5 separate regions of the Homo sapiens genome follow, and regions 2, 3, 4 and 5 are each linked to region 1. The links come from fine-mapping of genetic effects on gene expression. A gene starts in region 1. Each other region holds a variant in brackets. All regions are shown on one strand. Distances are between the middles of the regions. Region 1 holds the start of LHPP (phospholysine phosphohistidine inorganic pyrophosphate phosphatase). Region 2 overlaps FAM53B (family with sequence similarity 53 member B). Region 3 overlaps LHPP (phospholysine phosphohistidine inorganic pyrophosphate phosphatase). Region 4 overlaps LHPP (phospholysine phosphohistidine inorganic pyrophosphate phosphatase). Region 5 overlaps LHPP (phospholysine phosphohistidine inorganic pyrophosphate phosphatase).

What was found. PIP is the estimated chance that this variant, and not a neighbour inherited with it, causes the effect. A credible set is the group of variants that fine-mapping cannot tell apart.
Region 2: its variant is the best candidate, but not a certain one, in a credible set for the expression of LHPP in whole blood (INTERVAL, PIP 0.57).
Region 3: its variant is the best candidate, but not a certain one, in a credible set for the expression of LHPP in B cells (Fairfax 2012, PIP 0.52).
Region 4: its variant is the best candidate, but not a certain one, in a credible set for the expression of LHPP in anterior cingulate cortex (GTEx, PIP 0.89).
Region 5: its variant is the best candidate, but not a certain one, in a credible set for the expression of LHPP in prefrontal cortex (ROSMAP, PIP 0.71).

The regions. Positions count from the first base shown.
Region 1 is chr10:124,459,726-124,464,223 of GRCh38, reverse strand. LHPP (phospholysine phosphohistidine inorganic pyrophosphate phosphatase) reads right to left here and starts at 2,401. Exons shown (of 7, transcript NM_022126.4): 1 at 2,237-2,401. The coding sequence starts at 2,361. RefSeq lists enhancers at 1-44, 45-545 and a silencer at 2,062-2,521.
Region 2 is chr10:124,617,271-124,621,768 of GRCh38, reverse strand. FAM53B (family with sequence similarity 53 member B) reads left to right here. Exons shown (of 5, transcript NM_014661.4): 5 at 1-2,477. Among named protein-coding and RNA genes, the nearest start is that of FAM53B-AS1, 85 kb to the left of the region's middle. RefSeq lists enhancers at 1-78, 1,431-1,560. The variant G/A (reference allele first, on the strand shown) is at 1,987.
Region 3 is chr10:124,552,132-124,556,629 of GRCh38, reverse strand. All of the region lies in intron 6 of LHPP (phospholysine phosphohistidine inorganic pyrophosphate phosphatase), which reads right to left. Among named protein-coding and RNA genes, the nearest start is that of LHPP, 93 kb to the right of the region's middle. The variant A/G (reference allele first, on the strand shown) is at 2,202.
Region 4 is chr10:124,539,507-124,544,004 of GRCh38, reverse strand. All of the region lies in intron 6 of LHPP (phospholysine phosphohistidine inorganic pyrophosphate phosphatase), which reads right to left. Among named protein-coding and RNA genes, the nearest start is that of LHPP, 80 kb to the right of the region's middle. RefSeq lists an enhancer at 3,668-4,168. The variant G/C (reference allele first, on the strand shown) is at 1,983.
Region 5 is chr10:124,588,040-124,592,537 of GRCh38, reverse strand. The region is part of intron 6 of LHPP (phospholysine phosphohistidine inorganic pyrophosphate phosphatase); the gene reads right to left. Among named protein-coding and RNA genes, the nearest start is that of FAM53B-AS1, 110 kb to the left of the region's middle. The variant T/C (reference allele first, on the strand shown) is at 2,403.

The DNA.
Region 1 (4,498 bases):
CCCGGCTGCCTATCAACACATGGCAGTGCTGACCTGGGATGCCAACAGGAGGCCTTACAAAGCCCAGGTCCAGTGGTGCCAACCATGCTACTGAAAGTGTCCTTCTGGCTGGCCACAGTGGCTCACACCTCTAATCCCAGAACTCTGGGAGCTGAGGCAGGCAGATCACTTCAGCCCAGGAGTTCAAGACCGGCCTGGGCAACATGGCAAAACCCCATCTCTACAAAAAACACAAAAAAATTAGCTGGGCATGGTGGCACGTGCCTGTAGTTCCAGCTACTTGGGAGGCTGAGGTGGGAGGATCTCTTGAGCCCTTGAGGTAGAGGTTGCAGTGAGATTGAACCACTGCACTCCAGCCTGGGTGGCAAAGTAAGACCTTGTCTCAAAAAAAAAAAAAAAAAAAGAAAAAAAAATTAGGCCAGGTGTGGTGGCTCATGCCTGTAATCCTAGCACTTTGGGAGACCAAGGCAGGAGGACTGCCTGAGCCAAGGAGTTCAAGACCACCCTGGCAACATAATGAGACCTTGTCTCAAAAAAAAAAATTATACAAAGAAAAGTGTCAGCCAGGTGCGGTGGCTCACGCCTGTAATCCCAGCACTTTAGAAGGCCCAGGCAGGTGGATCAGTTGAGGTCAGGAGTTCGAGACCAGCCTAGCCAGTATGGTGAAACCCCATGTCTACCAAAAATACAAAAATTAGCTGGGCGTGGTGGCGGGTGCCTGTAATCCCAGATACTTGGGAGGCTGAGGCAGGAGAATCACTTGAACCTGGGAGGCAGAGGTTGCAGTGAGCCCAGATGGCGCCACTGCACTCCGGCCTGGGCAACAAGAGCAAAACTGTCTCAAAAAAAAAAAAGTGTCCTCATGGTCAAGTCTTGGCTGGCACGATGTTCTCTTCCTCCTCCTCTCACCTAAACCAATGCAGTCCAACAGAATTATAATGAGAGCCACAAAGGTAATTTAAAGTTTTCTAATAAGCACATTAACAAAAGTTAAAAAAAAAAGGTATACTTAATTTCAAATATTTTAACCTAAAACAGTATATTAAAAATATTATCAACTGGGCATGTGGCTCACGCCTATAATCCCAGCACTTTGGGAGGCCGAGGCAGGTGGATCACCTGAGGTCAGGAGTTAGAGACCAGCCTGCCCAACATGGTGAAACCCCGTCTCTACTAAAAATACAAAAAATTAGCCGGGTGTGGTGGCACATGCCTGTAATTCCAGCTATTCAGGAGGCTGAGGCAGGAGAATCGCTTGAACCTGGGAGGCGGCGGTTGCAGTCAGCAGAGATTGCACCACTGCATTCCAGCCTGGGCAACAAGAGCAAAACTCCGTCTCAAACAAAACAAATAAAAAAAGTAACTGGGCATGATGGCGGGTGCCTGTAATCCCAGCTACTCGGGAGCCTGAAGGGGGAGAATCACTTGCACCCGGGAGGCGGAGGTTGCAGTGAGCCGAGATCGTGCCATTGCACTCCAGCCTGGGCGACAGAGCAAGACTCCATCTGAAAAGAACAAAACAAAACAAACAAAAAGTATATCATTTCAACAGGCAAACAACATAACCCATTTTCATGTTTTTATTTTACATTTTACTCACGAAGTCTGGTGTTTTTGGGGGTTTTGTTTATGAGACCGTCTCGCTCTGCAGTCCAGGCTAGAGTACAGTGGGGTGATCACAGCTCACTGTAGCCTTGACCTCCTGGGCTCAAGCGATCCTCCTGCCTCAGCCTCCCAAGTGGCTGGGCCTACAGGCGTGCACCACCACACCCGGCTAATTTTTAAATTTTTGGCAGAGACGGGGTCTCCCTATGTTGCCCAGGGTGGTCTCCAACCCCCTAGCCTCAAGCGATCCTCCCTCCTCTGCCTCTGCAAGTGCTAGAATCACAGATGCGAGCCACCGCGCCCGGCTAAGTCTTGTTAATCGGTATGCATTTTACGCTTACAGCACATCTCAATTCAGACTGGCCGCAGGTCAAGCGCTCAGCAGCGCACGTACCAGGTGGCCGCCCTGTCTGACCGCGCAGCCCTAACCAGCAGAGTCCTGGTGCTCGCCGGGGGCAACAGTGGGGTCGTCCGTGGTCAGCACTGTGCGCGCACCGGGGTGGGAAGGGGGAGACCGAGGCGGGGCCTGCGCCGCGGCCCCGCCCCCTGCCGCCCCGCCCCCTGCCGGCAGCCAGGGAGCGGGCTGAGCTTAGAGCTCGGCGGCCCCAGCGGCGTCCCGGGGCCCACTCACCTGGCCACCGCCTCCACCGAGCCGGCGATGGCCGTGCCGCCGCCCGCGCCGCTGTCGTACAGCACGCCCGAGATGTCAAGCAGCACCCCGCGCACGCCAGCCAGCCGCTTGCCCCACGGTGCCATGGCGCCCGGCCCTGCTCCTCAGCTCCGCGTCCCAACCGACGCCGGCGCCGGCGCCGCGGCCGCGCAGGGGCGCCTGGGAACTGTAGTCCCGCGGGCGGGGCAGGGCAAGAAGACCGGGTGCAAACCCGGAACTGGGGCGCGGCCTGGGCACCCCGGCGTCACTCGCCCCTGAAACGGTGTCCTTTTCGGAAGCTTTCTTCCCAGGAGATCAGCGGACAAAGAGCAGGAAAAGCAGAAAACAAGTCCCTAAGAAAGGTCAAAGGCAAATTGAGACAAGAAGGCACCTGTAGCCAGGGGCGGTGGTTCACGCCTGCAATCCCAGCACTTTGGGAGGCAGAAGCGGGCGGACAGCTTGTGCCCAGGAGTTCTAGACCAACCTAGTCAACATAGTGAGACCCTGTCTCTATTAAAGAAAGAAAGAAAAAGTACAATACAAAATTGAGGCCGGGCGTAGTGGCTTATGCCTGTAATCCCAGCACTTTGGGAGGCTGAGGCGGGTGGATCGCTTGAGATCAGGAGTTCGAGACCAGCCTGGTCAACATGGTGAAACCCCTGTCTCTACTAAAAATACAAAAATCACCTAGGTGTGGTGGCGCATGCCTGTAGTCCCAGCTACTCGGTAGGCTGAGGCGGAAGAACCGCTTGAACCTGGGAGGCGGAGGTTGCAGTGAGCCGAGATTGCACCACTGCACTCCAGCCGGGGCGACAGAGCAAGACTTTGTCTTAAAAAAAAAAAAAATTATATGCAGATAACAGCCCTGCATAGATGAGGATGCATAGGACCTGGGCTGAGAAGAAAACGGGACTATCACAATGCGTTAAACCCAGGAGGTTTTTGGATAAGCTATAAAATACCACTCGATGCTACATTATTTTTGCAATAAATACACATTGATATTAAAAGGGAGGAGTTTCCTCAATGGCCCCTCGGAACCTTTCAAGTTATTAAATAGAAACGAGAACACTTTACTTCTGGTCCAACATAGCTTTGAGCTTTCAAAGAAGAGAGGATCATATTATTTCACCATTTCTTTTCAGGCTCTTGATTCACAGAAAGGATGAGGAATTCGTTGAAATGTTATGGGGTTCAATGAATTGTGTATATTTTGTTGACATGCTTACTAGGGGAGCTGTTTACAAGTGAAATAAAATACAGTTCCTACCCTTTGGGATTTCCACTAATGGGGTTGGGGAGTAGTATACCTTATATAAGGGTTCTTAGTCGCAGACAATAGACACCACTCCAGCTAGAGGGGTTTTGTTTACATGAGGTGAAGGAGCTTACAGATGACGGGTCTAAGTCCTACACAGCCAGGAGCCATGCAGCCACGAGAAACACTTAATTTTACTACTCCATTGGGACCACTGCCCCATCACTTAGTGCAGCCCCCAGCATAGCTGCCCCCAAAAGAACAAAACATATCCACCACTGTGCCCTCCACCTGTGGCCACCCACTCACTTTCACTGTGTCTGGCTTGGTGGAACCTAGCCCACGCTGCAAAGGAGTCTGGGAAATGCAGTTTTTAGTGTTCCAGGGGCTGAGTGAGTCAGTTTGGAGAATCTGCTAGGAACATCATGAACCGTACACGTATTGAGACCCTACTCTGTGCAGTGGGCACAAAAAAGTTCTAGGGTGTGATCCTTGCCTTCCAGGATCAAGACTGGGCAGAGAACAATGGAAGACCTTCACGACTGCTGACCAAATGTGTGCCAAGTGGCAATGAGTGACACAGACACAGTCAAGAGGATGACCTCTGCAGGCCTAGGAGGGCAGCTGTGGCTTCTGGGCAGGGGCAGCCTGAAATGGACCTTGGAGAATGGCTGGGCTTTAGCTTCATGCCAAGGAGGAGGAAAAGGGGTGCTTCTGCCAGTGGTGTGAGCCTACCCATAGTTGTTTCTTTTCAGTCAGCTCTGTGGGTACTCTTGGGCAAGTCCCTTTTCATTTCTACGACTACAGTAGACAGAATAGTGCCCCCTTGAGATGTCCACCTCCCAATCCCCACAACCTCTAAATATATTACCTGACATGGCAAAAGGGACTTAGATCTTGCAGAGCCTATGCTCCTGTAGGGAGATTATCCTGGATGGTCCAGGTGGGCCCAGTATAATGACATGAGTCCTCATAAGGGAAAGAGG
Region 2 (4,498 bases), 160 kb before region 1:
CTTTTGCTCGTCTTCATGGACGAGTGAACGCCTCGCTTCTGCAGGTTGAGTCCAGATGCTTCTCACCTTCTTTCTCCTCAAGAAAGATGCTTTTTGGGAAACGTTGTTTAAATCTTATTTTTTTACTACATCAAAAGGATGGTGGTTCAAGTTCCCAATATGTGGGTGGCACTTCTTAAAAATCAGCTTTAAGGAGCTGGCAGAAAGCCCCCAGCCCCACAGCCCTGAGAGATGGTGTTGCTAGCTCAGGTGGCTGACACATGGGGTATGCCGGGCACTGGGCAGGTCCCAGAGCCGGGGAACCAGCTCACCTCTGGTTGCTGTAGCTCCTGCCGGAGGCATGTCTACTTGTGATCCCGGACAGCCGAACCCAAGAGCTGGTGGCTCTGAGCAGACAGAGACATCTTGGCCTGTCCCTGCCTGGGGGTCATGGAGACCATGTCTTCTTAGAGCAAATGTGGAGGCGGCCAGGGCAGTTGTTGGGTGAATGTGGAGAGCACATGGCCATGTCTTGCCCCCGGAGTACCACTGGGCGTGGGGGGTCCTGGCACCACATGCCCGGTGTGGCCGAGGGCACACAGCCTCTATAGCAGGCCTTCCTGTGGAAGGCAGAGGCAGTGAGGGAGGTGGACGGTGCCAGCTGAGGCTGAGGCATGCAGCAGCCCCCAGCTACCTTTGCTTAGGGCTGGGGTGGGAGGCACATGGTGACAGGTATATGTCGTGGGACTGGGGTGTGGGTGACCTGCCCTCAAACCTTGCCTGCCACCTCCCCATTCAGGCCTGGTGGCAGGAAGGGACAAGCTGTGGAGCTGGCTGAGTCACAGCCACCTCCCCACCTCCCCGCAAGCTGGTCCCATCGACCAGCAAGCCCAGCCCCAGGGCGCTTAGGGAGAAATGACCCAGCCTCCTCAGACCCCGCCTGCCTGTCCTGTGCCCACCACGCAGCAGTCAGGGGAGAAAATGGTGGCTATCCCTTCTGCTTAGAGAAAGAAATGGCCTTTAGCTGGTTTCATGTTTGTGTTTTGACTGGAGGGAGTAGACCCTATCTATAAGGTGCCACCCCATCATCCAAGCTGCCACACTGCCCGGAGCAGCCTGTTCCTGCACTCCACCCTGCTGGCCCCAGGACTTCTGATCTCAGTCCTCTGGGAGGGAGGTTCGCCTAGGAGGTGCCCCCCACATTGGTGTCCCCATGGGCAGCAGGCAGACAGCTCACCCCCACCAGCATGATGGCCCCAGCTGGGGGCAGTGGCAGGAGCCTTACTTTTGTCACAGCCTTGCCCACAAACCCTGCCTCTGAGGGGAGACTGAGGAAGGGCAGAGCCAGAAGCAAGCCGTGCCAGGCCATCTGCCTGCTCATGGGGTCCTAAAGCGCGGGCTAAGCCTGCAGGAAAGCCGGGGCGGTGGGGGGGGCTTAGTGCCACATGCACCCCACTCATTCCAAAGCCACCAAACTGCCAGGGGCTGCCGTCCACCCGTGGGGCCCAGGGGCTGGGGCCACAGCCTTGCCATTTTCGTTGCCATACCCTCTTGCCTTACTCGCGGTGGAGGCCGGATTTGCACGGGCAGACGTGCACCTGGGCCCGTGGGGAGCTTGTTCTGACCAGACGTACAGATTTTCATTCTCAGAAAGCCTTACTTTTCAACCAAATTTTTGTAGCCAGTTTTGTGAATTTGTACACTGAAAGAAAATTTAAATAAAGGGGAAGTCCACATTAAAAAGAAAACAAAACAAACCCTAACTAACTTCCAAATGGGTCTCCTGGTGCGGGGGCGTGAGTGGCCGTGCCCTGGGTGTGCTGCCTGTCTGAGCAAGCTTCCCTAGCTGTGGAACCCCGGGCCCCCTGCTGCGGGCTCTGCCTTGGTGTCATGCCTGCTGCACCCCCGTTTCCACTGACGTGCCGTCTGTGGCTATGGGGGTGGTCACTGGAATGACGGTCACTCCAGACGTCAGCCGGCAGGGATGCAGCAGGCTGGCCGCGCACC[G/A]GGGCTCGGGCACCCTCTGGCCCCACACTGGCAATGATGCCACACCTTGCCATGTCCACGCTGTTGGTCAAACCCCTCTGTCATGCCTCTTTAAAGAGAAAAGAAGAGAAAGATTTTTTTTTTTTTTAATGGCAGACCGAAGTGGAGATCTTGTAGCCTAGATAGGATAGTCTGACCTTCTAGCATAGTCTTTTTGGCAAATGATTTGTGTTTTCAGTGTGTGGGGAAGCTGTCCTGGGGGCTGGGGCGACAGATAGCACATAGGCTGTTTCTGGGGCTGCAGGGGCTTCCCTGAGCTGGATGTTGTGGGTGTTGCCGTGCTTCAGGAAGTGTGGCGACCAGAAAGCGTAGACCCGGGGCCCAGGGTCTGCCCGCCCCTGCAGCCTGGCCTCCCCGCACAGGCTGTGGCTTGCACTCCAGCCGCTCTAGTCTCTCAGGAATTTGCTTGTTACTTGTACTGTGTAAATAAAGCTTCCTGGTTCAATACCCAAGTGCCTGGTGCCAGCTGTGTGGTTTCTGTTGGGTGTGGTGAACTGGCAGGTCCCCCCTGCTCACAGGAGCATTAGCTCTGGGCGCAGAGAGACCTAGACTGGACCCTTCTGTCCCCTCCAAGCCTCGGGGTCTGAATCGATAAAATGGGGCTAGCAGACATCACAGAGCTGTGGAGACGCCGGGGGACGGGGGAAGGCTGCCCATGGCCACAGCTGCATCATGGGGAGCCCTTCTAGGGCCAGGAGCCCCAGGACAGCAGTGGGGAGACACTCCTTGTGTCACTTGAGTTAGAAGCCATGGAGGAGTCTGCCCTTCCGAGCACAGCAGCTCAGCCTTCGACAGCGCTGGGAGGTGAGGCCACACAGCAGCGTGCGGAGATGGGCCCAGCCTGGCCTGCAGCCCTGAGGGGCCTGGGATGGCCCCCACCACCCACCCACCAGGGTAGCTGAGGTGGCACAGACAGGCTCACTGGCTCCGGGTTTCTGCCCCCGCTGCAGGCAGCACAGTGCAGACTTCTGCTGCGTGAGTGAGTTGCGGGGGCCCCAGAAGCACGAAGCCCAGCCCGGCGTGGCCCACTGTCTCCCGTGCATGGCCCTCTGCTTACCCGGACTCAGGAGAAGGGCGTGTTTGCGGCCTGGAGGACAGGCGTGGAGAGGTTTGCTTGATTTCCATAACTCAACACTTGCCCACACAATCTGCCCATGGAAGTCTGGCCTAGAATGCTTGTTAGGGCCAGAGCAGCCCCTCTGGGAATGAGGCTCTGTAGCCCCCGCTTTTCTTTTGGTTTTTGCTTTTAGCAAGATTTTTTTTTTTTAAGTCTATGAGCACTGAACTCAAGAAACAAACATGTGAAGTGGGGCTGCTGGGGGGAGGTGAGCCCCTTGTCCTCACTGCCATCCCTGCAGCCCTGCCTTACCCAAGGCCTAGGGACTCACTGATTCGAGGCTGGATGCATTGACTTCCCCAGCACACCCTCCCCTCACCCCTGCCTCCGTATCTGACAGATGACTGGTGGGCCAGGGGCTGGCGGGGGGCTTCTACCCAGCGCAGTGCCCCCACCCTTGTGCCCCACCTGAGGGTAGGGCACAGAGTGGCCCTGGAATTACCTCTGGCCCTTACCAGCCCCTTGCTGCCCCCAATCCCTAGATGAGGTCCCTGGCTGGATGGATAGCTCCGTTCTGCCCCCACGTGGGGCCTGGCCCCAGGCCTCACCCCCAGTGCAGTGCCCAGGCCAGGCACAGGTGCTTCTGACATGGGGCACACGTGTAGTCTCCTTACCTGCACAGCGATCATAACCCTGTGGGCTTACGAGAGAGACTCAGCCACTCTGTCCAGTGTGCAGGGAAAGGGCTGGAAGGAAGAAGGCCGAAAGGAAAGGCCCCAGAGAGCACAGTGCTCAGACTCCCGGGTGACTTCTGGTTTCTTTTTATATACTTCTGTTAAATTTCCTGTAATAACACATGCTGCTTTTATAATGTTAAAAAAACCACGTAGAATGTAGGCTGCCCCGTGTGTTCACCTCCTAAACCAGGACAGTTCTGAGGGGCAGCTGGAACTGTTGACACGCACTCTGGCACGGGAGGCGGACCCAAGAGCACCCACCCCAGAGGGGCACCACACTCGCCCGTCCCGCCCTGTGTCCCCACCTCTGCCCTGAGGTGAACACAGGAGGCTTTCCACCTGCCAGCTGCCAGCCAACCTCCCCGAGAGGGGCAGGAACCGACCAGCAGGACAGACCCACCCAGGACAGCGGCACCAGGTCAGGCCTCAGCCTTTCCGATCCTCTGGAGGGCTCAAGCCGAACGGAAGGAGGGAAGAACTGCAGTCACCTGGGCCGGTGGCGCTCACATCTGACGTGGAGGCCTCTGCTTCACTTGGCCCAGTTCCCAGCCTTGTCGGCAGTGAGGACATGGACCCTCGCTGGCATCCGTCCTCCGTCTGGCACAACGTGCCGTGTTCTCTCTGGTTAGGGTTTGGGTGGGACGGAGACTGCGCCCCTGTTCCTGGTCCGCCTAAGTCT
Region 3 (4,498 bases), 92 kb before region 1:
GAGCAACTTGATGTCTGGAGGGAGAATTCTGCAGAAGTACCAAACACCTTAGAATTTTGCATACCCTTTGACCCAGCAATTCCATGTGTGAGAAGTTATCTTAAAGCAAAAATCCAAAATAAGTGCAAAGCTATGCTACAAGGATGAGCAATGCAGTTGGGTTTACAATAATGAAGAATTGGAAACACATGGAGCATCTAACCATAATACTAAGGGACTGTTTAGGATGCGTCCACACGCGGGAGCAGGGTGCAGCCATTAAAACGATGGCCCCGGAGAATGCACGGTGGTTTGGAAGGGTGTTCTGGAACTGGGCACTGGGAAGAGATGTCCCAAAACAGCCTGTGCTCCTGACCTCACCTGTGGACTAGAACACAGAGGACACATTTGTGCACACAGTTTGGAAGGTGGACACCCAGCGGCATCAGAGGTCACCGTCACCTCTGGATGGTGGGCTGGTCGGTGGTTTACCCTCTGCCTTTCACTTCTTCAGTTTACTGAAGTTTTCAAGAGGGAACACAGACACAAGTTTAGGGGCCTGAATTTGAATACCACCTCTGCCATCTCATAACTGTGGCCTTTGCAAGGCTGTAGAGACAAAATGAGCCAGTGCATGTAAGCACCAAATAAATAGTGGGCACTGGGGTCAACCAGCTAGGGCCCAGCCTGGTTGCACTACGTCCCAGCTGTGTGACCTCGGGCCAGTGACTTCATTCATCTGTAAGGGGGAATATGGCCTGAGGACTTGGGTGCAGGTTCAGCAAGGTAACATGTACAAACAGCTCGGGGCAGAACTGAGCCCAGAACAAGAGCTCAATAATGTCAGTGGTTTTATTATCAATAAGAAAAAATGCAAACTATTATATTGAATTTTTTTTTGAAAAATAAAGAGCCTAACAGTCAAGATAGACAAAGTACCTTAAAGCAACTAGAAAATCAGATAAAATATATGAAACAATGACATTCAGGCCCCGCACACCAGGCAGCGCAGGACTGTGGGCCTAGAAAGGAGGGACTCCAATAAGGCCAGCCCTACAGGTGCCCTCTGCAGAGCAAGGTCCCCCATGCTGACCTCACAGCTGGGGGACCCTTCCCAGGCTGTGGGAGGGTCCAGGGAGATCAGACGGGGACACAGGTTGGGTGGGTAGCACAGGGTGTACTGCAAAGCGCTGACACACCAGGACCCAGCCGGGCTTTGGACAAGTGGGGAGGGCCAGGCCCTGTAAGGCAGGGACCCTCCCTTCCTCCCTTCCTCCAGGGAGGAGCTGTGCCTTGTAGAGCCCCCATCTCACTCTAGGGTCTCCCAGACTACAGTGCTCACTCGCCCTGGCAAGGGTGCCTCCTGCAGGCCTGTGGCTGTGGTCCAGCCAGGAGTTCGCCCACCCTGCCTGTTCTCCACTACTGGGCTGAGGGAAACATTGACACACTCACCCCTCACCCATCCCCACTGGCCCACCCAGGAAGAGAGCAAAGGGGTCAGGGCCTCCACTCGGGAGGCAGAGAGCACAGTGGTGTTGAGAATGGCTGGCTTCAAATCCTGGCCCAGCTGCCCTCTCGCTGGACGTACTCAAACCAGTGATTCAGCCTCTCTGAGCCTCAGTTTCCTCACCCTAAAGTGAGACTAAAATGCCAGCCGCATAAAGCTGCTGTTGGCAATCAGTGAATTATGTCTGTGCAGTGTTTAGCCCAGAGGCTAAGAGCACACAGCAGGTGCTCAATAAATGACAGCCGCAATTATGAACAATCTCCTGTCCACATTTGCCTCATTCCTTCGTTAAAGAACCTAATTCTGTCTAGAAATATCTGCCAGAGTTGCAAAGTCTTTGGAAAGGCCCTAAGGCCCAGAGATGGAAAAAGTGTACAGAAATGATGATGGGGCAAAAGTGAGCCCTGGGACCCGCCAAGCTAACAGCCCACCCAGGAGTAAGCGAGGTGCAGACAGCCCACCTGGCCCCGCCCACCTGGCCCCTCCCACCTGGGCCCACCCCTTCAGCTCGTCTAGGGCTGTCAATGATAGAGATGACAAGGACAGCAGCAGCAGCATTAATGAAGCAGTGGCTCTGCACCGGGCACTAGGCTAAGCACTGCATGCACATTATTAAACTGCCATATCCCATTATAGAAACTGAGTCCAGGCCGGGTGTAGTGGCTCATGCCTGTAATCCCAGTATTTTGGAAGGCCAAGGCAGGAGGATCACTTG[A/G]GCCCAGTTCAAGACCAGCCTGGGCCACACAGGGAGACCCTGTCTCTGCAAGAATTTTAAAAACTAGCCGGTGTGGTGGTGCATGCCAGTAGTCCCACCTCAGGCATGCATCCTACCCAGGAGGCGGAGGTGGGAGGATCACTTGAGTCCAGAAGGTCAAGGCTGCAGTGAGCCATGATTGCACCACTGCACTCCAGCCTAGGTGACAGAGCAAGACCCTGTCAATAAATAAATAAAATGAATAAATGAATAAATACATAATAAACTGAGTCTTAGGTTGAAAAACCTCTACCTGGCCCAGGTCGTCCCAGCTGTAAATGTCAGAGCAGGAGCTGAATCCAGGCAGCCCAGGCTGACCACCGCCCCGCAACTACAGGCTCGAGGCCTTCTTCTATCTGCAGTGGAGTCTCTCGAAGAAGACTCACATGGAGCTGTCCACAGGAGCGCCCAGTTCCCAGAGCATGGTGCCGCAAGGACAACAGGGGGGCTCTGTCCCTCCTGGAGCAGGAAAAGAACAGATGCCAACAGCTTAGCCTGTGGTAAGACAGATGTGGTGGGCCCCTTACCTCCTTCTGCAGACAGAGGAGGGGCCTGGCCCGGGGGAGGTCTCTGTGCAGCTCCCAAGGTGACAATATCACCGGGAGTCATACAACATTCAAGAATGGCTGTAGGCCGGGCGTGGTGGCTCACGCCTGTAATCCCGGCACTTTGGGAGGCCGAGGCGGGCGGATCACAAGGTCAGGAGATCGAGACCATCCTGGCTAACACGGTGAAACCCTGTCTCTACTAAAAAATACAAAAAATTAGCCAGGCGTGGTGGCGGGCACCTGTAGTCCCAGCTACTCGGGAGGCTGAGGCAGGAGAATGGCGTGAACCCGGGAGGCGGAGCTTGCAGTGAGCTGAGATTGTGCCACGGCACTCCAGCCTGGGCGACAGAGCGAGACTCCGTCTCAAAAAAAAAAAAAAAAAAAAAAAAAAAGAATGGCTGTAATCCTGGCCCTATGGTGCCGCTGTTGGGATTTTCCTGGGGTTTCAGGGCAGTCCGAGCTCAGGTGCATCCTGGCTGCAGGTGCAGGGGGTGGGCAGGAGGAAAGCCCCATATGCTCCCCACATGAGAACCCCACTTGGGTTCTGTCCCAGCTCAGCATATGGATTTCTTGTTCTCTTTCTCCAAGTTCCCCTTTGTCAGGCTGAGTCTATTGAGCCAGAAAATCAGCCGTGTTCTGGGGATGGCCAAGTCACAGGGACCTGGCTTCCCATGGTGCTGCCACTCATCAGCTGGGTCCCTGATCAGAGTCCCTGGGTGCTAAAAGCAGGCACTGACTGCCCTCCCAACATCGAGGTCCCCAGAAGGCCCCCTTGTGCAGAATAAAGACACGCTAGGAGGCCGCGGAGCGCTGAGCGGCGCTCATTATCAGCTCGGAAGGCCAGCTTAAAGGATATTCCAGTAATTGCAAGGTTTTTGGTAAATGTTAATTACGGTTGCCTTAATTAGCTCCAAACCCATTGATCTATGGATTATATTAGGTTTATAAGTGTAATTACCTTAACAGCATATGGATTACAATTACGCTCCAATTAAACCCCAAACGTATAGCATATAAATTAGTAAAGGGATCGTCCTGATTGTCCAGGATAGGCTATTGAAATGTTGCCACTTTCAGGGCCTCATGCTGGGGCTGGTCCTTTGCAGGCGGGGACCTTGGGGAATTTGGAGGTAGGGGGTTCAAATGGTCTCTGGCAGCCACGCGTCCAGTCCATCTAGACCCGATTTAGAAATGACTACAGGGGCGGGGGCTGGCAGGCCCCAGCCTGGGGGGCAGTGGCTGGAGGATTAAGAGCTGTGCCTGCTCAGCTCGTCTTCTCTCAAAGAAATCAGGACACCCAACAGCCCATTAATGATGCCCCTCACTGCTCTCCCTCCAGGTAGAGATGGCTTTCTTGCCTTGTCTGGGGGAGGGGCAGGTGCTTCTTTAGACAGCTCCATGTGGATCTGCTGTGGGGGATTCCAGTATAGACAGGAGGCCTAGAGCCTGTATGTGAGAGAGGGGTGGGTGGTGGCAGGGTGGTGATCAGCCTGGGTTGCCTGGATTCAGGGCCTGCTCTGCCACTTACAGCTGGGATGACCTTGGTCAAGTAGTTTTTCAACCTAAGACTCCGTTTCCGTAATGGGGATCCGGTAATTTAAGAATGTACATAAAGTGCTTAGCAGAGTGCCTGGTGCACCATGGCTGCTGCTGCCATTAACATCATGAACTCACTTCCAGGGTGGGGAAAGGCTGGAGGGCAAGAGCGCA
Region 4 (4,498 bases), 80 kb before region 1:
CTGGTGAGATGCCGGCAACTCTGGGTATGAGCTTAACTCTACAACCACAGTTTATAAATCGTTGCTTTTAGTATGCATTTTTTGTTTGTTTGTTTTTTAAAAAACAGGCTGAACAAAATGCTAACTGTGGTTCCTTTTGGAAGGTGGGATTGTGGATTATTTTCTTTGTGATTTTCTGTATTTTCCAAAGAAGGCATGCATTTCTTATATTATCAGAAAAAAAAATATATTAATTTTTAAAAGAAAAAAATTGAAGGTGCCATAAAAAATGTACAAACTAGAAGGATTAATAGAATCCCAAATATATAAAGTGGCTTTTCTGTGCGCTGCTGTGCTGGGCCCAGACAGGCCCCACGGACCCCTCCACACAGCTGAGAAGTGCAAGATACAGCCCAGCCGCCGCCACCATGGGCAGCTGAACTCCTCACGGCTAGTGGCCCTGGCAACCTAGAAGTCCCATCTCCAGAAAGGCCCTGAGCCCAGAGAAGACTCCCTGTTTTGAGGCCCCAAGGCTCAGCCCTTGTGGGGCTCCCAGACCTCCGCCTTCCCAGGGCACCTCTGCCGTTCCCAGTCAGCACATCACCGCAGCCACGGTACAGCCACCTGCGCCTGCACTGTCCTCGCTGGAAAGATGGCTGTGGGATGCGGGCAGACCCCGCACCTGGGCCGACCGGGGGTGTCTAGGGGTCTGGAGGACAGGCAGTGTCTACCCTCAGGTTGGCCACAAACTCCTGTCCCTCTGGGGAGTGCGCCCTGCCAACCCCTGTGGGGGCCATACAGGAAGGAGCAGCCAGGGAGGTGGAGTCTGGGAGGATGAAGGCTTGTACTGCCCGAGCTGGAACGGGGGCATTTTCTCTCCCAGTCAACCCTCGGACAAGGCCCTGTCCAGGTATCCAGCCCCCTGACAGGTACAGCCTGAGGACCCGCTGGGCCCACACCCTGAGATGGGCATGGGTGGCAGTGAGGTGTGGCACAGCAGCCCCCACTCACAGGGCACACGCAGTGCAGGGGCAACGACAGACACTCAACCCAGAGCTGCTGCATCCCCACTGTGGCAAGAGCCATGGGCAGGCAGGGACCGGGGAGAACGACCGTGACGGGGCCTAGATGTGCAGGACCCTCAGCCTCGGTCAGGGAGACGGCTGGACACCACTGATGAAAGGCAGGCAGGCGCGTCCACAAAACCCCATGAACGTGAGGGGAGGCGAGAGGGCAGAGGGGAGAGTAGGGGCAAGGAGGCGATCAAGAAGAGGCAGCAGGGCGGGGTGAGCCCCTGGAAGGAGGCAGAGAGGTGGGCTTCTGGGAAAAATGGGCCTCCAGCCTGGCTGGGCCCCAGGGTGCACAGGGCTGGGATGGGGACCAAGGTCTTCTGGTAACTGCCCCCTCCCCCAGGCTGGTACCAGCCTGCCCCTCTCTCTGGTCCCCACCTGGGGATGCAGGAGAGCTGCAGGCTGAACTGGAGCAGGAGAAGCTCTGATGCAGGAGGCGGCTCCATTCCCCCAGCGCCCTCTCCAGTCCCAGGGAGACCCTGGACCTGAGCACACAGGCTGGAAACAGACTGCCAGGGCCCAAGTCCCACCTGCTGGCTGCATCCCCTCAGGTGGGTCCTAACCTCTCTGTGCCCTCACCTGTAGGTGGAGATGTATTCGTACCTCTCTGGCTGTTGTGCAGGTATCTGTAAACACATAAGTGCTGGATAACTTCAAGGTCAGTAAATAAGTGAAGGCGCTTGGTGGCTGAGTCCCACAGCCTGGGGTCACAGTCCGATCTGTGCAAGCCCCGTGCCCACCAGAGCCACTGAAGGCATCTGTGTTCCATGCTGGCCCGAACGCCAGCCCCAGACCCCAGACTGCCCCAGGTGCTGGTCAGCTCTAACTGCGGTCCCAGGCACAGTGGGAAGGTCATGGGGGCAAATGCAGATGGAGCCTTTGGTGAGGCAGCCACCGAGTCTGCAGGGGCTTCCAACTCCAGGAGCCTCAGCT[G/C]GAGAGGTGTCTCAGGAGAGACCCCTCAAAGCCCCCTCCTGCTGTCCGTTTCATGTCTGGACAGGGACAGCATGTGGGCACAGGGCACTCTGCGAATGACCAGATGTCAGCATCTCCCCAGGTAGGAGCTGGGGAGGCAGCACCCTTGCAGTGGGGAAGTAGGGGTGAAGGAAAGGTCACCCCATCTGGGCCGGGGCCTGGCCCGCCCAGCCCACTCCACTCTGGTCTCCAACATTGCAAATTTGTGCAAATACCATTAGAGCCCTCCCCAGTGTCCAGCGTGTTCTAAGAAGCCCTCGTAGCTTGTACTGAGGGATGACGTCATGGGAACTCCCACCCACAGAAGCCCTCCAGGGCCTCAGTGCCCCCTCGAGTGCCCAAGGCATTTGCCTAGACACACACTGTCCCCACGGGTGGTCCCAGGCTCACGCGGGGGTCCTGCAGACAGGCATGAGACTTTCGAGCCTCAGCCTGCCATTCGAGATATGCTAGGGACACCAAACGCCCAGGTGGAATTCCTCAGGGTGGCCATGAGCCGCAACTCCGTTAGGTCTGGGGCTAGCAGAGGCTGGCTCTTCTGCCACCTCAGGAACTGCATCCCATGTGGCCATTTTGAGCCACAGGCAATGTTCTTGCAAGGCAGAGAGCTCCTTCCTGGGCTCTTTCCACAATGAACGCCCGCCACAAAGCAGCCCTCGATAAAGTCAGCCTCCCTCTGATCAAGTTTGGCTCCAGCCCAAATTGTCTATCCTGGTACTGCAGGCTGGTCGTGTCGGCTGTGTCCCCCAAGCACAGTGTGCAGGGGCAGCGGCCCACCTCCAAGCTGCCTCTTGGTGACTCACCATTCTGGGTGGCTCAGAATACATCGCACTCCAGGACTCAGGCACACTGCGTGGGTATGGCAGGCTCTCCTCCGGCCATCCCAGGGCCCAGGGCCACTTTGTGATTTGGGGGGCCCCTTCCTCCATTAAAAAAGCTGTTAAATAATTTAATGGATTTTTGAATTATTATTTCTAAAGTGAGAAAAAACATTAAAACATTTTCTTTGGCCCTAAATGTTCCAGAGATATTTTCCTTCTAATTTTAAAATAAATTAAACATTTTCTTGAGCCCCTAAAGGCATCGTGTGTCCAGAACCTGCTAAAGAAGTGAGCCCAGGTTCCTCTGGATCCAACTCCCGGGAGATCTGGAGCCTAGATCTAGGGCCAGAACTTAGGAGGACTCTGCCCCCTGGTTTTGGTGGCCACCTCAGTGCAGCCTTTGGGGTCCCGGGGCCTCTGTAGGGCCGGCTGGAGAAGATGCTCTTTCTCTCTGCTGCTGCTGGAACCCTGCCTGTGAGTCAAACCATGGAGCACCGTGAACCCCAAGCCACGTTCCAGGCAGCCAAAGTGCAGGGGTGTGCGAGGCCACCCCGAGCAGCCCCGGATCCCCAGCAAAAATGTCACTCAAACTGCAAAGGCAAAACTCAGCTTAAGGGAGCAGGCCAGTGGGGCCAGGAGCACGAGGCTGTGCTGTGCCTCAGGGTGAAGGGCGCTCGGGGAAAGGGAAACTGAGAGCCGTCAGTGGGGTTGGTGGGCGAGCGGCTCCAGGCAGTGGTGAAAAGGCCCCATCCTGCGCAGCCCCCCTGGCCCTAGCCTGGCCACGAAGCAAAGCGGGAGAAACCAGGCTGGGTCCCCGGCCGCAAGTCCCTGCCGCCCCCTGGTGGGAACCCACAGCCGTGTGGACCTGGAGGGCCAGGGCAGGGCTATGTGCCTGGGCTGCAGGACCCTGCTTAGGTGGGAGCCCTCCTTGTCTCGGGAGGCCACAGCACAAGGCACACCTGCCCACCCACCCACAGCATCTCCACCGAAGCGCACAGACACAGAAACAGCACGGCGCTGCATGAACGGCTGGGCCAGGGCACCTGCAGGTAAACCCTCCCCTCCCCACGGTTATCTGGGGACCCAAGTTTCCCTAAATAATCATACTGATGAGAACACCAAGAAAATGAGCAGAAGCGGGTAACTGCTGAACCCTTGCTGTGTGCCAGGAAGTGCGGTGAGTGCTTTTGGCAGGATATCTCATTCTGGTCTCCCCAGCCGTAGGTGGTAGGTACTCTTATTATGTCTATTTTATTTTTTTGAGACAGGGTCTCGCTCTGTCGCCCAGGCTGGAGTGCAGTGGTGCAATCTCAGCTCAATGCAGCCTCAACCTTCTGGGCTCAAACAATCCTCCCACCTCAGCCTCCTGAGTAGCTGGGACTACAGGTGTGTGCCACCATGCCTGACTAATTTTTTTTTTTTTTTTTGAGACAGGGTTTTGCTCTGTCGCCCAGGCTAGAGTGCAGTGGCACGATCTCAGCTCACTGCAACCTCTACTTCCCAGGTTCAAGTGATTCTCCTGCCTCAGCCACCCGAGTAGCTGAGATTACAGGCGTGAGCCACCACGCCTGGCTAATTTTTGTATTTTTAGTAGAGGCGGTCTCGAGCTTCTGGCCTCAAGTGATCCGCTCTCCTTGGCCTCCCAAAGTGCTGGGA
Region 5 (4,498 bases), 130 kb before region 1:
AATCGGGAACTTGGCAGCAATTTAGGCTCAGGATTCTGGGGTCAGGGCTTTTCCCAAGTTCGGGGAATGCCCCAGTGACTCATTTTCCCCGCCAGTGACCTCAGGGTCTCATCATGAAAGCTCAAACCTGAGCCCTAGGTCCAGTGTGCTTTAAGAGCTCGGGTATGCTGCAGTTCGAGAGCTGACAGGGCCAGCCCGGGGCTGGGTGAGTGAGGGTGATGGGACTTCCCTCTTTGGGGTGCTGAGAGGGTTGAGGAGCCATCAGGCCCGGGTGCCATCTGCCAGGTTTTGCCTTCCTGGTGAGAGATGTGATACACAGAACCTGGCATATGCAGGCAGGCCACCCCGCACTGTCCCTCACCTAGTCACAGGCCAGACCACACTGTGCCAGCAAATGGGGCTTTATACTGCAGTTTACCATCCCATAGGGCTTGCCTTCTCTTATTGTTCCCCAACCCCAATATTTGATTTCCTAACTAATTTTACTTGCTTATTTGTCCATATAAACTTGAGTGCTGACTTGTCTAGGGTGTGTTACAAGGTGGGGAGAAGGAGGCAGGAGAGCAGATGAACCTGTTGGCATCTTAAATTGTTCCTAAACAAAGTTCTTCACCACCAGACAGTCTAATTTGCTCCTCAGAGCCCTTAAAACCAGGAAGTGTTGCTAGCTCCATTGTCAGAGACCCAAGATCAGAGAGATGAGAATGTTTCTCAAATGTGGCCGCTCTCTGTAGTCAGCTGCGGAGCTTAGAACAATTACTCCTACCTGGTATCAGAAGTTGGGATGCAGCTGAAGCAGGATTCAGAGGGAAATTCATAGTACCAAATGCTTGTTAGAAGAGAGGAAAGATCTGAAATTGATCACTGAAGCTCCCATCTTAAGGAAGTAGAAAAGGAGCACAAAATAAACCCAAAGCAAGCAGAGGAAGGAATAACAGAGACACGGACACAGTGCTGGCCACCTGCTGTGTGGCCTTGGGCAAGTCCCTTTTCTGGGCCTCAGTGTCCACAATGACTTTGTCCTAAACCTGTTGTTCTCTACCTGCATGGCCTGGAACCCCAGGCTTCCAGAGAAACCAGGAGTCGGGGGGACAGCCCAGGGGTAGGGGTCAGGCTGCCTCATCCTCAGGAGCCTGCCCCACACTGTCCATGGCAGGGGAGGTGGTGGGGGTTGGAGGTGGTATGGACTGTGTCCTCCAGCACCAGGCCTGCACCTGTGGAAGAGCCCCTGACTGCCCCAGCTCTGCCCCACCTTCAGGGGCACCCCAGCTTTTGTCTTTTCTCCCTGAGGCCTCTCCCTCACCGGCAGCTCAGGCCATGCCGGCTGGAGCCACACACATGCCACTGATCAGGTACAGAGAGTCTTCCCCGCTTGCCTCACCCCTGCTTTCATTAACAGGACTGGACCCCGAAGCAGCAGTTAACACCCACCCGCGGTGCCCCCTTCCCCCCGGCTTATTTCCTGCACACGCTACCCCCTCAGAGGGCTGCTCTGCACTCCCCACACAGACTTGAGGAAACAGGAATTCCTCACATTTGAGTCTCACAAAGGAATGATGCTCTCAGGCCCCAGGATGGGCGAGACTGCTTCTGTCTGAGACAGGGATCCTGTTTCCTGGAAAGGAGGCCTGTTGCAGTGTTTACCAATGACACAGTCCCATCCCTTGAGTTACAGGGCACAGCCAGATGGATACGAAGCCATCCTGTCCCTCCAAGTGTGCACTCTAATTATCTAGTCTTTGTTTTGTGGACAGAGAAGCAGGCTCAGGAAGGCGACATGGCTTCCCTCGGTGGCAGAGGAGGCAGGCAGGTGGCAGCGCTGGGGCTGGTGCCCACCGTGTCTCCTCTGGCAAGGGCTCAGCTGAGCCTTGTTGGTGCCACTGTGGGACAGGTACACTGTGCGGGTGGGGAGAGTCCTGGGCAGACAGGACCAACACAGTCCCCTTCACCTGGAGCTCCTGGGCTAGAAGTAACAAGTCCAGTCATGACACAAGGGACAGGTGCTGGGTGGGGGCTTGGCAGGAGAGCCAAGTCCCCTAATGGGGTCACACAGCGGCTTTCTCGGGGTAGCCTGGAGTTGCTCACCATCGCCCACGCCTGCGTCGGAACTCAACTCAGAATTCTGGGTCAGAAGTCTTCTTGGCTCAGAGGATGAGAGGCGCCTTCAGAGCCCAAGAAAGGTTGCCCTCGTGCGGAGGGTTCCAGCACTTCCCCGCAGTCGAGGGTGGGAGCCACTCCTGAGCAGCCTGGCAGTGGGGGTGCTTTCCTTTGCAGACCTCAACCAAAGCCAGTGCCTGCTCCGCACCCCACCCCCAATAATGCTCACACACCATGTTCTCCCACTTCAATTTCATGTGGCTGTGGAAGGAGAGAGAGAGACAGGGATTGGGAGAGGGAGGACG[T/C]CACATGAACGAATCGAATGAGCTGTTCACACTATTCTTTGGAAAGAACGATGGATAAAAAACCTGCAAAGCCAGTCAATCACGCATTTATTTTTCTAAGGGCGGGGGGCGGTGGAGTGGTGGGATGGAGAGAACTTTCCTGAAAGGATTTGGCCTTGAAACATGAAGTCAAACAACTGGATTTGGCAGGCTGACAGCTCCCGAGCCCCGCCAGCCCGAAGAACTGCCAGCCTGGCGGCCAGGGCGCGCTGAGACATAATGAACTCATTCAGAGCCGAGCGGGGCTGGAGGACGGGGCTGCACGCAGGGGGCCTTCCAACCAGAGGGGCTGCGGCACCAGGGACCCTGCAGGCCTGAACGAGAGCCGACCTCACCCCCAGAGATGCGGGAAAGGCGGGTCCGTCCGGGGATAGACAAGAAAGGGTCTTGCTCGAGTCTCTAACACACAAGGAAGTCCCAGAGAACAGGAGTGAAGGAGGCCGATCTCAGATGGGTGATGAAAGCTGGGGCCGGGTGAGCTCTGCACACTGGGACCTGTGCACTGAGCCTGACCCCTGCTCTCGTGTCAACAGTCCTGCTCCTCCCGGCTCATTCTGCTGAGCCCCATGGCCACCTCCAGGACCTTCTCCTGGGTGGAATCCTGCCGTGGGTCTGCGAGATTGTGAACTACATCTAAGCAACTCCATGGCTGAGCCCATGCCAGCTTTTTAAAGCCAAGTTTTCATTTTCACAGAGAGGCCTTTGCCTTCCAGGTGGCTCAGAAGCCTGAATGATAACAGGGCTCCATCCAGCAGTGGAAGCTTTTGTGGTTGGAACAGATAAGGAATTAGGACCTGCGGTGCACACTGCAAGTGAGACAGAGGTCCCATGTATCAGGCTGCGAGCACGGCCACCGCCAAGGAGGTGCTATAAGCTCTGAGATGCCTTATGCAGGAAAAGGCTCCTGACATTTCTGCACGGACTGTCCCCAAGGCTGCCTGTAAACCTTGCAGCAGCAGGAACAGGTTCTGCTTGAGTCCCGGCAGAAGCATTGGTCCTTGAAGGTGACAGGCCTCCTTTCTCTGGGATGGTTCAAGGGAGGGGCACCATGAGATCATCTCGGAGCCCTCACAGCCGCGCTGCTGGGGAAAGCCTTGATTTATGGGCGCTCCACCAGGGCTATAAATAACCGCGCTGCACCGGCTGTGGCTGGTCAAGAAACTGACGTCTGGTTTTCCCTAACCTTTGCCCTTCCTTCCTCATTCCCAGGGCACTGTGCAACATGTGTGGAGGGTGGGCCAGTGCCCTCTCCAGGACCCCCTGGACCTGACTGTCAGAGGAGGGAGGGGACAAGGGAGGCCTTGGGGTAGGGCATGTCTCCCTTGGAAGGCAGTGTTGGGGGAGCAGTGTCCTCTGCAAGCTGCTGTCACCTCAGATTCTGAGGAGCCAGGATCCATCAATATGGATATTTTTTGCAGACATTTGTAAAAACCTCAGATTCTGAGGAGCCAGGATCCATCAATATGGATATTTTTTGCAGACATCTGTAAAAACTTGTATTGATTTCAAAATGAAAAAGCTGGGCCGGGCACTGTGGCTCACGCCTGTAATCCCAGCACTTTGGGCGGGCGGATCACTTGGGGTCAGGAGTTCAAGACTAGTCTGGTCAACATGGCGAAATTCCATCTCTACTAAAAATACAAAAATTAGCCGGGCATGGTGGCAGATGCCTGTAATCTCAGCTACTCAGGAGGCTGAGGCAGGAGAATCACTTGAACTGGAGAATGCAGTGAGCCAAGATTGTGCCACTGCACTCCAGCCTGGGCAACAGAGCAAGACTCAGTCTTAAAAAAAAAAAGAAGAGAAAAAAGTAAAAGCATAAGTGGCTGCTCCAGAAAGCAGTGCTTCTGGCCAGCTGGACCCAGGGCACCTTGGAGGGCAGCAGAGGTGGCAAGGCTGAGGGACGCGTGTTGTGCCTGTGGCCACCTCTGGGCCTGACACATGAAGCCCCCGGGCCTCAGCAAGTGTCTGTTCAGTGGGTCACGTTTTCTCAAACTTCTGCTCTCTGTACAGAACACCTGTGAATGTGGCCTGCCTGGAGAGGGGCAGTGGCAGTG